Linked DNA regions of Homo sapiens: region 2 is linked to region 1. The links come from fine-mapping of genetic effects on gene expression. Tissue or cell type: blood mononuclear cells. Region 1 holds a variant in brackets; the other region holds the start of a gene. All regions are shown on one strand. Distances are between the middles of the regions.

Region 1 (8,107 bases):
TATTGATGCTTGGTGGAGAATTAGCCATTAGTGATGTGAAGCCATGTATCCTGGGTAGGCAGGACACATTTGTTTTCTTAGCAGATAACTAACATGTGAGGGAAATGGATGTCCACTTATGGCATTATATTTAAAGGAATAATTTAGACTGGATTTTCCCCATTATTTTTGCTGCGAACGTATGGTCCTCATGGTGTGCTTTTCTGTCTCTGGAGTCTTATTGTCCTTTTCCCCATGCAAAGAGAATCTTGCTCTGACTTTGGAGATACAAATGGGAAACATCTTTTTTGGAGGTTACAAATGGGAAACATCTTTTTGTAATCCTGACAGTCCTGTTAATTGCAATTAGAGACTGCAGTTGTAACATCTTGGACGTTTGGTATAAGTATGCGTGTTATGCCATGAGGATAGCCACAAATTCACGGAAACATCAGGAACTGTAATGAAGCTCGGGTTTGCCTGTCATGCCCCTTTTCTGGATGAGCGTAAGCATCTCGAGCCTCATCCATCACTGCACAGTGCAGTGCATGAGTTTTAATTTTCAGGTCCTCAGGGGGACAAAAGAACAAGCTGTGTATTCATTAAAGGATCAAATATTAATTGTATTAATTTGATCTTTACACTGCATCTTTCAGCAGAGAAATTAACTTGTAATTCTTGGAGTGACATCAGATCTTACCAAATATTCTTAGGCCTTATTGATGCTCAAAAGTGCCAAGATGCAGCCCTGGCTTGATGGTCAGTGCAGTTACATTCAAGCTTCAGTTTCATCACTTGGCCTTGGGCATGATGCTTTTCTAATCCATATCCTCTTTAATTCATAAAATATTAGCTGGTAATACCAACTGCCTCACAAGATTGTTTTGAAAGCCAAATATGATGATAAATGTGAAAATGTTTTTAAACCATAAAATACCTTATAACTCTAAGGAGTTACTATTATATACTTATTCAGCAGTCATTTACTTAAAACAGATTTTGTGCCAGATACTCTTCTAGGGGCTGAAGTAATGGCACTGAGTGAAACAGAGACTAGTTCCTGCCCTCTTGGGATGTATTTTCTTGCTATAATAAAAATAACATTATTAATAATAATAGTGATAACATTTGTGAAATAAAATTTATTTAATAAATGCATTTTATAACTTTACATATAATTACCAATAACTATTCAAAATTATAAAAAATACTTTAATATAGGTTAAGTAACTCTAATCCAAAAATCTGAAATCTTAAATGTGAAAAAATCTGAAACTTTCTGAGTGCTAACACAATGCTCAAAGGAAATGCTCACAGGAACATTTTGGATTTCAGTATTGTGGATTAGGGTTGCTTAGCTGGTATGTGTAAATATTCCAAAAATCCAAAAAATCTGAAATTTGAAACACTTCATGTCCCAGATGTTTTGTATATGCGATACTTAGTCTGTAGTAATGAATATGTGATAATATAAGTATAATAATAATTTAGCATGTTATCCATAAGTACTCATGTCATTAGCTTCTAACAACAGTGATAGAGATCACAATGCCTCAACACTATATAAACTGTAAAATTCTAGAACCAGGGTGAATCTTAAAAGTTATCTAATACAACCCCTTTCTTTCCTAGATGAGAATAGTTGAGAATGTATTCACTAATACATTTCAGCGAAGTACAGGTTCTTTGCCCAGGAGTGCTGTAAATAACCAATGAAAATTCTTGAATGCAGGCAACAATTTAATCTTCATTTCAGAGACTCAGAGAGGCAGGTGGCTTGTTCAGTATTGCAGATTAGTAAGTGGGGAAGCCAAGCCATGATCCTGGGGATTCCTTCTCTGGTTGCCATAGACACGTTTTGGGGGACTTGTTTAGAAGTTACAGTGATTGAACTAATATACCCGAACAAAGTGGATTGGATGTTTTAGAACAAGGAGAAGTCCCTGTATTGTTGACAGAAATCTCTTTTATTTTGTAACTTGTCAGCTTAATTAACTACTGAAATGAGTTCCTTAATAAGGTGATGGGTGCCTCCTAATTCTTGTATGGTTCAAAAACAATAATTAATGCTGATTTGTGTGGTGAGATACATATTAATCATCTTTATTTTTGAATTATACAAATATACAATACTATTGTCCCTCCGTATTTTACATCTGAAGAGAATTTAATTGCTTTTTTGATAATAAAAATAAACAGAGAGCCACAAAGAGATATCACCACACATGTATTAGAAAAGCTAAAATAAAAATTTGTACCAGATGCTGCTAAGGATGTGGAGAAATGATCTCTCACAATGCTGGTAGGCATGTGCAAAATTTTGTAGCCACGATGGAAAACTCTTTGGCGGTATTTTACAAAAGTAAACATGTACTAACCATATGACTCAGCAAATATACCCTTTGGCATTTAATCCAGAGAATCAAAATGTTATGTTCACGAAAAAACCTGTACATGGATGTTCATAGCAACTTTTTTTTTTTTATCATAATGACAAAACACTGGAAACAACCCAAATATCCTTTGATGGGCAGATGTTTCAGTGAAGTCTGGTACAGCCATACAATGGAATAATACCATTCAGCAGTAAAAAAGAATGAAGTATTGTTGGTATATGCAATAACCTGGACATGCTTAATGAAAAAACTGTCTCGAAAGGTTACATGTATTATATGATTTCATTTTAAGACAAAGCTCTAGAGATAAAGGACATATTCATGATTGCTAGGGGACAGAAATGGGTGGGTCGGGGGGGGGCAAGTACTGGTCATTCCTACAAAGAGGACGCAGCAAGAGTCTTTGTATGGGTGGAACAGATCTGTACCTCAATTGGAGTGATGATTACATGAATCTATACATGGGATAAAGTTACATAGAACTGTATGCACACACAAATCAATGCAGGTTATAAAATGGTAAAAACTGAGTAACTCCTAGTTAACAATAAGGTAACAATGTCAGTTTGCTGGGTTTTCGAATGTATTACAGCTTTATGAGCATTACCATTTAGGGAACCTGGGTAAAATGTACATGGAAACTCTGTACTATTTTTGCAACTTTCTATGAGTCCATATTTAAAAAAAAATTAATAATAGTAAAATAAAGGAATGCATATAGATATCTTAATGTATTCTTCTCTTACTCAAAGTGCTATCTTACATGCCATCTGAATTGCTTGCATGATACTTTGAAAGATCACTGCTATATGTATCCCTGCCAAAATGTATGGCTTAAACCTGTGGTTTTCAAAGCTGGCCAGTCATCAGAAAGACTTGGAGAACATTTTTCAAAAGAAAAAAATTAAAGCAAGTCCTAGGTCCCATCACAATTTTACAGAATCAAAATATCTGGCCATGGGGCCCAGGAATCTGCATTAAAACAAAGCAAAATAAAAAATAAAACAGAACTTCCCGGGAATTGTGATTGATGCTCAACCAACGTTTGGGAACCACTCATTTATTTCATTAACTTCAGGGACCAGTGCCTTAATCTCCTTTGAACCTTCTCCAAGTCCTGAGAGTGTACTCTTCCTCCCGTAGTTAATGATGGTAGCTTTTGAAGTCTTGAGAGTCTTTATCTTGTGAACATTGTACAGATTCAGAGACCTAGAGCATCTTTCATGTTGCTATTCTTTTCCCTCAGTGCTTTCATTATAGACACCAATCGTTTGCATATGTTGTCCTGGGTCATTTTATTTGGGATCCAAAACCAGAAAATTTCAAACAACAACAAAAAAATGGATTCTTCGAGAATGCCCTAGCCATGGACAAGCTTCTGCATTACAGAGCTCTTGCTATTGTGTTGCTTTGGGTAGCAATGCCTGAAATCTCAGCCAATTTTGGGTCACAGTAGGCCTATGTAAATTATCTAAAAATGGATTCATTATGGACATTATAAAAATAAATCTGACACCTGAGCCTTTGGGCAAATATACCATATAAAGAAATCATACCCTAGAATAACGATTAACCTAAAGAACTTAAAAAAAATCAGTATGATATTTTTATCATCCTTTCTTAAAATTACTGCATTCAGAGAGACCTGATGGCTGAGGACAGCACCTGGGGCAGAGGAGTATAGGTCATTGGGATGTGGCATCCTGAGTCTTCTAGCAGTTTGCTCTTCCAGCACTCTCCCTTATTATATGTTCTTTACATTGTTCTGTATGTCGCTGTCTTCAAACAGAATAGATAAGTCTACTAGTCAAGATAGACATATAACAGGCACCACATGTGCATAAAAATTGCATTATGTAAATTTAGTGCCGTAATATAATATGAAGGATGTCCTCTAGGAGGAACTGGGGAAAGCATCACAGACGAGGACACATCTGATCTGAGTGTTGGAGAATGAGTTAGTTGTTTACCAAGCAGAAAAGGGTGGTGGACAGCATGGCATGCCAAGTAAAGGGAACAGCATGTGCAAAAGCAGAGAATGGCCCCCATCCTGACCCTTGTAATTTTGGCAGCTCTTTGCTGATGTCCTCAGGCAATGCATCTGGGCTCCTGGGAATAGCTTTGCAATGTGAACAGAGTGACTTCACTATGGGTAGACCTAAATGTTCTAGCGTGCTCTGAAACTTACCTCTAGAAATAGCTCCAGGAAGTTAGGTAGCTTCAGAGAGGAAGGACCAAGAAATATGATCTTATACCACAGGCAAGAAGTACTTTCCTGGAGGTACTGGCCAGAAGTACTATTGCTATCTCTCTGCACTTGTCTGTTATATTTTAGAATGAAATGTGCCTGTGCATACAAATGCTAAGGCAAGAAAGAAAAAGCAAAAGGCAATTCTCTTTAAATCTCCTGAAATAATTTCAGGCAGCTTTTTTTACCTAGTCAAACACACACGCTTAAGAATGGAGTTGTAAGCTAACTTAATCATTTTTTGTTTTGTTTTGCTCTCTTACTTGTTCACACGTTGGGGTAATCCTGAGAAAACAGGAAGCAATGAAAGAAGGATTTTATTG[T/A]GAAATGTTCATTACAACTTGTAATTTTAAAATGTGTTTGTATGAGTGTGCACAAATGTGAATAAATTTTAGAGCACTTTCTCACATAATATCTAGTTTAATCACCAGAATATCCTGCAACGTTATTATAGTTCCTACATTATTATGGTTCCTAAAGACAAATGAAAAATCTGTGATTCAGAGACCCAAGGTTAGGCTAATAAATGTAGAAGTCACATTTGACCAAATTTTAGTATCTTCCCTTAAGTATTGGTAATGTACGATAAACACTATTTGGTAATAATGAATTATTACAATTACTAAAACAACTTATCTGGCAGAACAGTATCTTAACTATTTGAAAAATATTGTAGTGGATTTATTAGCTTCCATTTCATCTGAAGTCCACTTTGCTTTACTGCTTACTTTATCTTTCTAGCTACTCTGTAAAAAAGTTATTATCACCCTCAATCTGCCAAGTATAATGTATGTAAAGTGAAATAACTAGCATATTGCAAAGCTGGGAATTGAACCCTTGTCTCCTAAATCCAAGTCTGTAGCTGTTCCTCAGCAGTACACTGTATCTCATGTTAATGCCATTATTACTTGTATTAAATGAAATAATTTTTCCATCATTATTTTCCCGAATTATTACTATCCAGAGCGATTTGAAGGTTAAGGTCATCCAAATAATGTGTGAAAATTGCTTAAAATCAATCTCCTGTGCATGGATGTCTATGATGTATACAAATATAAAACAGCCAAAGTAGTCTCAAGAAGTTATTACCAAGTTTCTCAAATAGTGTCTCAAGGCGACATTATTTGACAAGACCTTTGGAATAACCATTTGGAATTTTCCTTAGTTCAGTTGAATTGTGTCATCTTGCTTAAACTTTTCAGATATCAGGGGTAGTTTTATTGACATTACAATGGAATTAAAATGACATTTTATTTTATTTTTTACCGTTCTATAGAAATGGCATTTTAATTCGTCATTATTTTTATTATTGATCTGTTAATGTTGTAATGACTTGGGTTTTAGTAAGGGCATCCTCTGTAAAAATTACCTCCTGGGAAAGAAATCTCCAAGTTCTATGAGGTCTCCCAGAAATATCACCACTTGAGGTGAGAGTAAAGTGTCATGAATGCCACCCAATGTGATTCCTGGTAGATAAGATTTCACTGTTTTATATCTTGACATCTGCATTAAATTCCGTTCTTTTACTGGGTCCTATTCACTTCCATCTTGTGCCATTGTTACTTAACCAGGCTCTGTAGTGGACAGGAAAAAGTAAAAACACGTCTTAGCCCTTAAACAGTTTATATTTTCATTAGAAATTCAACATATGAAAATGCCCAGTTAACTAACAATATAAAGCTTTACTGTACAGCTTCTATTTGTGAAGTGACTCCATGGCTAACTCTATCAGAAGAAAGAGTTTGCTTGGAGCCAAGGTAGTATTGGAAGGTTACAGAGAAGAAAGACTCAGGGAGGCAGTGGTTAAGCTTGTAGACTCTGGCATCAGATAGATCTGGGTTTCGAGTTTTGATTTTACCTCTTAATTCTCTGGAAACTTGGACTCACCAGGATAAGTGGCAACCTAAGTTCTTTCAGTTTTAAAATAGAGATAGTTATGCACTAGGCGTGGTGGCTCACGCCTGTAATCCCAGCACTTTGGGAGGCCAAGGGTGGATCACCTGAGATCAGGAGTTCAAGACCAGTCTGGCCAACATGGCAAAACCCCGACTTTACTAAAAATACAAAAATTAGCCGGGCGTGGTGGCACACACCTGTAATCCCAGCTACTTGGGAGACTGAGGCAGGCGAATCACTTGAACACAGAAGGTGGAGGTTGCTGTAAGCCACTGCATTCCATTCCAGCCTAGGCGTCAGAGTAAGACTCCATCTCAAATAAATGAATAAATAAAAATAATAAATAAATATATGAATAAATGAAATAGAGATATTTGTATCTTAAAGAGTTGTTTTCAAAGTTAAGTCATGACAAAATAATGACAAAATCAGTGGAAGCTGCAATCATTGTTCTTGCTATTATTATTGAAATGAAAATATGAACATTAGCTCTGAGGGTTCTATCCATAGTTTTTTTTAAAAAATTCTGATTATAAAATTTTAATTATAAAATCCCATATAGCTCATGCTGACCATTTAAAAAATAATCTTAGTTGTATCCTTGTTTCTTTTTGTATTTGCTAATAGAGATTTTAGAATTGGCTTGGTGTATGTTTGTCCTTGCTAGAATTATGATTCCTTTTTTGAATTTGCATTACACCTTTGTTAGAAGTAGAATTACTTTACTTGAACTTTGTCAATGTGGCAAAAAATGATTCATGTTTATATTATCTCTTTGAAAAGTAGTGTTTTTACTATTGAACTATAAGTACAGTTAAAATGTAAATGAACATTTCAGAAAGAAACTATTGATTTTTATTAATTAAAGAAATTAATTTTCCAAAATGTCAGTTGCTACAGAGAGATTTTAGGGATTATTAACTACACAATCTCAGAAAAATTAATTTAATTAGGGATTTTATTTTGGGTTCCATTCGTTTTTGAGATTCATATTTTGGATTAAGCCAGTCTCCTGAAATTGTATTTAAACTTAGTCTGCGTGTATGTCTTTTTTAGGGAAAGCATTCACAACACCATCAGACCCTCGAAGAGATTCTTAACTTACCCATTAAGAAAAGTAACATCTCTGTCTAGGGGTCACCAGTCTCTCAAGCCAGTTATATTGTTGCTGCTTGAATAAACAAAACAGGTTTTTATTTCTGCTCTTACCAACATTACTAGGCTGTGTTTGTAGCAAAAACTGAGTATGTGGTGGTGGTAGTAACTACAGTAGAAAGTGTAACGTGTACACAATTATATCATGATACATGGTTTTTAAACACATTTTATATATGTATATATTTAATTTATTCACACAACAAATATTTGCACATGTTGCCTGAGCTGTGCATGTGTAAGGCAGGGCATAGAAATGAATAGGGCATGGGTTCTTTCTGCTGAATTAGATGGTACCCCCTCACCCCCCATTTTACTGTTGAAGAGAGGGAAGCTTGGTGGTGAGGTGGCTTGCCCCAGACCATACAGGTAAAAAGTAGTCCAGAGTAGATTCAGGCATAACTTGTTTGAACCAAATTGTGTTCTTTAGACT
Region 2 (8,107 bases), 670 kb before region 1:
CCAGTTCTGCCACCACGCTGCACCCTCGCTGTGCTCGCGGCGGCAGCGGCGGTCCCACTTGTTGCGCAGTGCTGGAAACCGGCACGCGCCATTCGATGTTGATTCACAGAGGGCTACAGACCAGCCTACCATTGCTCCACGCCATCCACAAACCTCCTCAACACACCCCCTACACATACGTCCTGCCACCGCCGGCAAAACTACAGCATTTCCAGCCACTATGGTGTTTTACACCAAAACATCCCTCACTATCTCGGTATCAGACAGGCAGCAGAATTAAGATGCCCTGAGAAGTCAATCCAAGGGGAAGGCCGGGCTACCTCCGCCTGGAGAACTCTTCTACTTAAAATCAACCAGGCACCCTCCCCCCACCAAAAAAAAAAACCTTAGAACCACGTTGCCTATTATAACACCATCCTAGTTGGAAAGCAACATTTTTCTTCCCTACTTGATAAACTTCAAAGTCCTTTTTATCCGTTAGTTTTATCTCCCCTATTTTTTTTAAATCTCTGGGGGAAAAATGTTTCATAAGTTCACTTCCCAATATTTTTCAAAAATTGACTTTTGCCAATAGTTTCACCCACCGAGGGGTGGCGCTGCTGCACCGCCTCCTCTATATCTCTTAAGTTTTTCACAACAAAGTGGGTTGTGAGTGTCATTACCCTGTAGGGGATAGAGGGAAGGAAGGGTTTTGACATCTAGCCGTGGCTACCATTTACTCAACCAATAACTGGAACTCTTCAAGGGCTCAGCAAACGACAACTTAAGCATTTAGAGTCCCATCCCTATCCACCAAACCCAGAATAAGTTAGTCTTTTCAAGAAAGCATTGGTATAAAACCCTTCAAAACTGAAAAGAAGAAAGGGGCAATTGGAGAATTCCCACTTTTTCTGGCTGTCTCCTTCAAGTCGCCCAGTTTTTATGAACAGCATCTAGCCTTACTGTCACTATCAACAACCCTTAAAACTAGCCAATGCTTCGGCCTCTAGTATTGGAAAGTCTTCCAAATAGGATACTGGAAACTTCTATTTATAAGCTTGGGGTGGCGGGCGGGGCGGGGAGGTGGAGAGAGAGTTGCCATCTACAGGTTTCTATTTTGGCCTGAAGACTCAACTGCAGTCATTAGAGTAAGGGAATGCCCATCTCCTGGTACTTGTTCGCCATTTCCTCCTCCCCCAGAGACAAATATCTTTTCGTCTTTTTTAAAAAAGTATATATTTTAAAGCAAGAATGTGATTTCATCTCTCTTCTTTGAGCTCATGTTTGCTACCTCCAGGAATAGCGTGTGGACTAGGGCCAGATGAACTTCAACTTGGGCTGCAGATTTACGAGGTTCTGTTCTAGTGCCAAAGGCTCTTGGTAGTAAATAGTGAGCAAAATAGATACCTGTCTCCTGATGGATCTTGCCGCCCCCTCTTTTTTTTTTTAAGTTATTTATTAAAACCACACACACCTTGCAAAGAAAAAGGGAAACTGGCAGTCTCTGTAGAGGAAGCCGGTGGCATCGCTCAGAGCCACAAACTGTATTTCTAAACAGCCCTTTCCCTGGTTCCCTCTCTCCTGCCCCACTTTTTTTAAAATCCAGACTGTAAAAAACACATCTACTGACACTCACTTTACTTTAAAAAAAGAAGAGAAAAAGTAAAGCGTTACAAGACTTTCCTCCTGGAAACTATAAACTGAAAAAAAAATCCATAAAAGATTAAATCCTGGCGGGTTGTGGGGTGGCGGGGGCCGGCGGGGAGGGGGCGCGGAGTGGAGATTGGCTCTCTGAGGTGGTCAGGGGCCCTGTGACAGCTTGGGACTTTCAGCACCTGGTTTGGGGTCATTTATCTGCTCAACTGTCAGGACCCCCCACCCCCAAACCCCAGCCACCAACACAACCATCGTAGAAGGGAACACAACACAGAGGGTCTTTTTTCATTTTTTTAAAAAATCGGTTTGGTTGTGTTTTTGTTTTCCATGGGGGAGCTTTAAAACTCATTATTGCAACACTAGTTCCATTTTTCGCCAGGGTTCCAATAACACGGCATCATAAAGGCAACGCAACCCACAGTTCTCAAGACATTTACCACGGTCACTACATCCGGCAGCGGGGTGGCCCCTAGCTCCTGCTGCCCCCCCGCCCTTTCTCCCCGCCCGCCCCCGGAGCTCAGCCGATTTCTGAGGCTCCAACTCTACCCACTCCCTCCCCGGGCCGCCGCCGCCGCGCCTTCCCCCATTCTTACTCCCTCGAGGAGAGCCACAGGTTGCAAATCCAACCAACCTCGCAATCTATTTTTGCAAAATCACTCACAAAGATCTCCCTTTCGCGCCCGCGCCCGCTCCTCCCGCGCCGGGTCCCCTCAGCCACGGCCACAAAGTGCCCTTCTCTCCTCCTGAGTCTTGCACATAAGGAACGCGGGCTGGGGCTCTGTTCGTCTTTCTCCTCGCCCAAGGTAAGGACCTCGGGAATCTGAAGCCTGGCGTCCACTACGCTCAGGCCCGCAGTTCCCTTTTTACAGAGCTTGCACCATGGGAAAAAATAAAATAAAATTTAGGAAAGGGAGGCAACAGCCATTGGGAGCCAACACAGAGTCACGCAGCGCCCAAAATACAAACACCGCAGCGGCCAGAAATCCCGCCACCTTTCTCGTTCTCCCAGGCTGTCCTGTCGAGGTTCCCTGAGTCCCCCCGCACACTGAAAGGCATCGCAGGTGCAGTGCGCACCCCTTTCCCACCCACCCCAAGAAGCCCTGTCCCGCCATCAGTCTCTCTCCTCGGGATGAGCAGGGAGAGCGCGCGGAGGTTCCCGACTCCCTCGACTACAACCAAGAAAGAATAATTTTCAAAGTGTTCAACATCCCCGCCCCCAAGCTCCCCAAAACACAGGGGCAGGGAACACCAAAACACTCGGCTCTCATTAGGAAGATCACGGCTCTGAAAGGAAATAGTAGACACGATACTTCATCTCATCTGGATTTATGACCAAAAAAACAAAAACAAAAACCCAAAGAGTTCGCTTGCATTTTTTCCTTCCAAATCTCGGTTCGGCTCGAAGGCAGGGAATCTAAAAGACCGAGGCCGATGGAAGAGAGCCAGCGGGGCGAGCGAGCGGGCAGCCTCCCTTTTTGCCTCCCGGAGTTACCCAGAAGGACAGGGGAAGGGAAGGAAGAAGAGGCGAGGAAAAAGAGGAGGGAGGGAAGCGGAGGCCAGGAGCGACGGAGCAAGGAAAGCAGTTTGCAAGCGAGAAAAGAGGGAAAAAACACAGCCGCACGAATCCAGAGAGATCACAAGCCGTACGCAAGCAGCAGCAGAAAGAGCGAGAGCGCGAGCGCGCGTCCTCTCCGCGGTCTGGGGCCAGACAGCCCCCAGACTAGCCCGAATCACCCCCCAAGCACTGTCTCGTCCTCTCTGCTCCGGCCGCCCCCTAATTCCCCTCCTTCCTCTCCTCCACCTCCTTTCCAAAAACCAAAACAACACAAGGGAGGGTGGCAAAAGCCTCCCCAAACCGGCCGATTCACTCAAAGACAACAATAATAATAATAAATACATAACAATCTATATCCTATGGTGGGAGAGACGTGGGACTAATCTTCGGCATTTATTTTAACACCTGACAGCTAGAATAAATAAATATATACATTTATATCAATAGATACACATAGAAAACTTGGAGCCAAAGCATTTGGCAAGAGCGGAAAAAAAAAGAATTAAAAGGTAAAATAATGATCATGAGCAGCGGCGGCGGCAGCGGCACCAGCGGCAACAGCGGCGGCGGCGGCAGTAGCAGCAGCAGCGGCGGCAGCAACAGCAATAATCACCTGGTGTCCGGCCTTTCCTAGAAACTTCTTGCATCACCACTTCTAAGAACCCCAGTTCTAAGAATCAACAGAGCTCAATTCTCGGAATTTGAGCTTCGGACTTTACCACTGCTACGTGGCAGGGGAGGACTTGGTGTCAGCTCTCCGAGATTTTTACTGCCCCTGGCCAACCAAAAGCCCTCAAAGCCACAAGATTTTTTCACTGGCCGGCATATTTCGAGGTCCTCATAAGCAGAGCGTCTCGGATTTGGAGGTTCCGGTTCGAGGCTCGAGGGGCCTGAAGGTGGCTCTCCCTCCCCGGGCCCAAGACGATGGTATGGCCTGCTCCGCCACCATCACGTGGGCTCCTCCTCTGTGACGTCGGCGCCTTCGCTGTAGCAAAGCTCGGCCTCTGGAATTCTGAGAACTAATTTGCTATTCGGTGACATAAGAGGGGGAGTGCGCTTTGCTTTCCCGGGGTCTGGGGCTAATTCCTTCTTTCTTACCCATAAACTCAGCAGATCGAGCTAAATGCACAAAAGGGAGCGAGAGGTTTGAACCACTGGGAAAAGTATGTTATATATATAGTAGGGTTAGAGAGGCGAGTAAGAGAAAAATAAAATAAAATAAACATCACAGCTCTTTCCAACTAGAATATTAGGCACCACGAGAAAAATATTTGCCAAGCAGTTTTCGGTGGGTTCATTTGCTTTATTTTTATTTAGGACAGGGGTTTTTGCTGTTGTTCTGGGTTTTTTTCTTTCTGGTGTGGTGGCTTGGGATTTTTGGTTTCTGTATTTTGATGGTTTATGGATTTTTGCTTCTGATTTTTTGCCTTTTGCAAGTTTGTGGTGTTACGTAAATCACAGGATCGGCATCGGTTGGATTTTTTTGTACGTGCCTTTTCTTTCCCTATCTAATCCCTCAAGCGTTTTAAAGATGTATTATTTCAATACTAATACTATTGAAAGAAGCTTAAATTTTTGGCCATATGTAACAATCCCAGCCCCCACTTTTTTTTTTTTTTTTTCCTTTGGTGCAATTTTCTTTTTCCCCCTTGGACTTTTGCTGAAGTGTGTCTCTCCTGCACTTCAGAGAAATGTTCAAAGGATTTGTTTTGGTTTGGTTTGTTTCTTTCCAGGACAGCAAGTGGTGGGTTTAATCTGTTATTGTTGACTCTTGGGAAATTTCTTGTTGCAAGAAACGTGTGTGTGGGGGGGAGGGTGGGGGTGGCGGGGTGGTATGTGTGTGTTTTCTACAAAATTCTGTGAGCCAAATACCTGTTTGTGTTTTGTTTTCTCTTAAGGTCTTGAGATTTTTGTTTTCGAGGCTCGTTTCAAGGTCGTTGTAAAAAAATCTCTTCAGTCTGTGTTTAAGAGATCAGCCGGAGGGAATTCTAAAGGCCTGCCGTGCCAGTATCACAGATACTGCCTGTATTTAGAACAGACTGCCACAACTACAATGCACTACACGCAGCACAGTCTTCTTAGCTTTGAAGCTGAGTTGGGGGGTGGGGTGGGGGGGGGGTAGAGAAGAAGGAGAAATTCTTTCCTTCTCTTTTTCTCTATTACTTTCTTTTTAAAGGCAATTGCAGTGCAGAATCATTTCATTGTGGGTCCTAGTTTGTTTGTTCAGAGCTGCTAGTTTCCTTATTTAAATGTTGGTTCGGGTTTTTTCCCCTCCTACTCATCCCTGAATAAGGGAGACTCTTGTTTCTTTTATGTCTCTCTCTTAAAAGAAGGGTGTGAGGGGAAAATAATATTTCAGATTCCTCAAGAATTAGCCCAAAATGTTTGGACCAGAAGCAGCTTTCAAAGGTCAGGCTGTTCTGAGCCTTGGCTATGAGAGTCCTTCAAGCGACTTATTAAATTACAGATGAATTCTTAAAGCTTCCACAAAATCTCGTCACTTGTTAATTTCTAATAAAGATATGTCTAAAATAATCTACCTATCTCAACCCAAAATTTGGGTTTATAATGGAGGAGTGATCAGAGCTGTGAAAGATTGCTGTTTGCTGGGATATTTGGAAAATCTCTTTCATTGACAGTCCCGTAAGAAGTTCCATCTATCACCGAAAATGTTGTTGGCAATGCACCCCCCTACCCCACAACACACACACATTTTTAAAGGCTGTATTTTAGGTTTTAAAACCCAGAAAGGTGCAAAGAGGTTGATTATTTTCCACAAGGGCTGGAGCTTAGGAAATATGCGTTAAAGTGTCTGTCCCTGTGAAATCTGAATATTTTAATACTTATTGACAGATGGATTACTGCAGCCTCTGCAGAAAAGCCTGTCTTGTGAACGGTTTTTGAAAAATATACATAGGCCTAATCCTGTCACTGTTGTTGAAATGTACGTTTTACCCCCAAAGACACATGATATTGTCAAGTTCAGATTTATTCTGCCAGAAGGCAGACTATCTGCTTTTTCATTTGAGTCCCCTTCCTTCTCATTTTCAAAGAAATTAAAATGAATCCCGCTGGATGCAAAATGACACCCCGATTTTGTGGAAGGGATTTTCTTTGTGTGTTTATATGTGTAATTTTTTCTTTTATGAGCAATTAGCACTTTAGGATTTCTCAGACGTATCTATATGGTTTGGAATGTGAATTGTATGGCTCTGCCTTACTATTGGGCCCTCAAAAGATTATTTTTATGATTTTTGGTCACTTTTTTCTTTGTCAAAACTGCCATTCAGCCTCATCCACCGCCCCCCTCAACCTGAAACACAGCTTGTCCCTCCTGTGTTCCCTTTGCCACTCCACTCTTAGCCCCATGGGGGCGCTGCAGAGCAAAGGGAAATCTGCTCTCTAAGGCAGTAGTAGAACCAGCCAGAGTGGGGGCTGGGAAGGAATTCACCCTTCTCATACCTCAGCCCTCTTTAATTCTCTGCAGTGAGCCCCTAGAGGGAGAACCCACCAGGGCTGGTTCATATATAATTAACCTCATCACCAGGGACCTCAAATCTTCCCAGCATATTATTTCTGGGACCAAGTGCCAGAGTGCCACATTTTCCTACTGCTTTTTGCCAAATCAATGTGTTTACACTGAAAGAAATTGACCAGAACAGAAGACCAGTTAGAAAGAAAGAGAAAATCATTATTGAAAATTTTCTAAAGATAGGCACTTACTTTTCGGTGAGTCTCTTTTACTTTGAACTGAATGAATGGTGAGGAAAATTGTGCACCCGCCTCTCAATCTCTTTTCAATTCCTAGGAAAGTAACTTTGTCAAATATTATACCAGTTGAATTTCTTCCAGAATGTCATTTCTTCTTTCATTCTTGACCTCTCCTCAGTATCCAGTTGGCATCACTATGTGGGCCTCCCTCACTCCCGCAGTGCCGTGTTACAGGATTAAAGAAAGGGCTGACTTGAACGTATTCTGATTCTTTTAAATCATCCTTAAGAAGCTCTAAAGAGTGATTCCATGTCTGGGGTCGTATGAATAATTCCTGCAGACTTCGGGGCACTACATTTCAACTAGTCCCATGATTTAATGGTTACTGGCTGCTAATACTCAGTAGAGGACCAGGCCAACCTCTTTGCCTCATGGACTGGGCATAAGAATAGGTCCCTGATCATTGCTGCTGGGTAAATATAAGCTTTATTACAAAATAAAATAGCCTGGTCCTAATATTACATCTATTTGAGGAAAAGAACAGACTTCACATCCAATTCCCCCTTGCAAAACCTTCCCCACAATTCAGTCATAGCTGAAAAAGAACCTATCCTTGGAATAAACACGGTTCTGTCCTCTTTCTAAGGGGGCTCACAAGAGGAAGTTGGTTTCACCTGTCAGGAACCTCTGGCACCTTGGTAGGTCTTTAAGATACCACATCATAGGACTAAAGATTTTAAAACTGGGAAGACTTTTTCAAATCAATCACCTTCTCTAGGCTTTCTTCTTTCAGGATTATAGGCTGGGTCTTCACTAGGAGCATGTGTGACCCCAGGAACACAACTGAAAATGGGTCTGCATGATTTGCTGGCCCTCTGTCATTTTAGAGGATCAGTGTAATCTGACAACTTGAGTCTGTAGGTGTATATCTTGTGTCCTTGTAGAACTGAGGGAAGCAAGGCTGCCATGGTCTCTTTGTAAACTGCAAAACTCAGAGCGAACTCCAAGTCATGATGAGTTTTGATGGTCATTTGGGTTTATTTATGCCTCTCAGCTACATTGAAGTACTTGGCACTGCTTTTGATAGATTTGGGAGACACTATCTATCAGACTTGTTAAATTTTACCTGTTCGTTTTATTTCAAATCCTTCATTTAGAACTGTTGTAAACAAGCTTTTTGTAGTATCCTTGGAGAAAGAAAGGCGT

Evidence for each region. PIP is the estimated chance that this variant, and not a neighbour inherited with it, causes the effect.
Region 2: BCL6 starts here. The variant in region 1 is fine-mapped to the expression of BCL6 in blood mononuclear cells (TOPMed, PIP above 0.99). The same link has a PIP of 0.9 or more in monocytes.

The regions. Positions count from the first base shown.
Region 1 is chr3:188,413,049-188,421,155 of GRCh38, forward strand. The region is part of intron 4 of LPP (LIM domain containing preferred translocation partner in lipoma); the gene reads left to right. Among named protein-coding and RNA genes, the nearest start is that of LPP-AS1, 150 kb to the right of the region's middle. The variant T/A (reference allele first, on the strand shown) is at 4,947.
Region 2 is chr3:187,741,607-187,749,713 of GRCh38, forward strand. BCL6 (BCL6 transcription repressor) reads right to left here and starts at 3,862. Exons shown (of 10, transcript NM_001706.5): 1 at 3,804-3,862. It overlaps BCL6-AS1 (BCL6 antisense RNA 1), which reads left to right and starts at 2,063. Exons shown (of 2, transcript NR_173091.1): 1 at 2,063-2,438; 2 at 3,638-4,420. RefSeq lists enhancers at 1-84, 85-584, 2,975-3,500.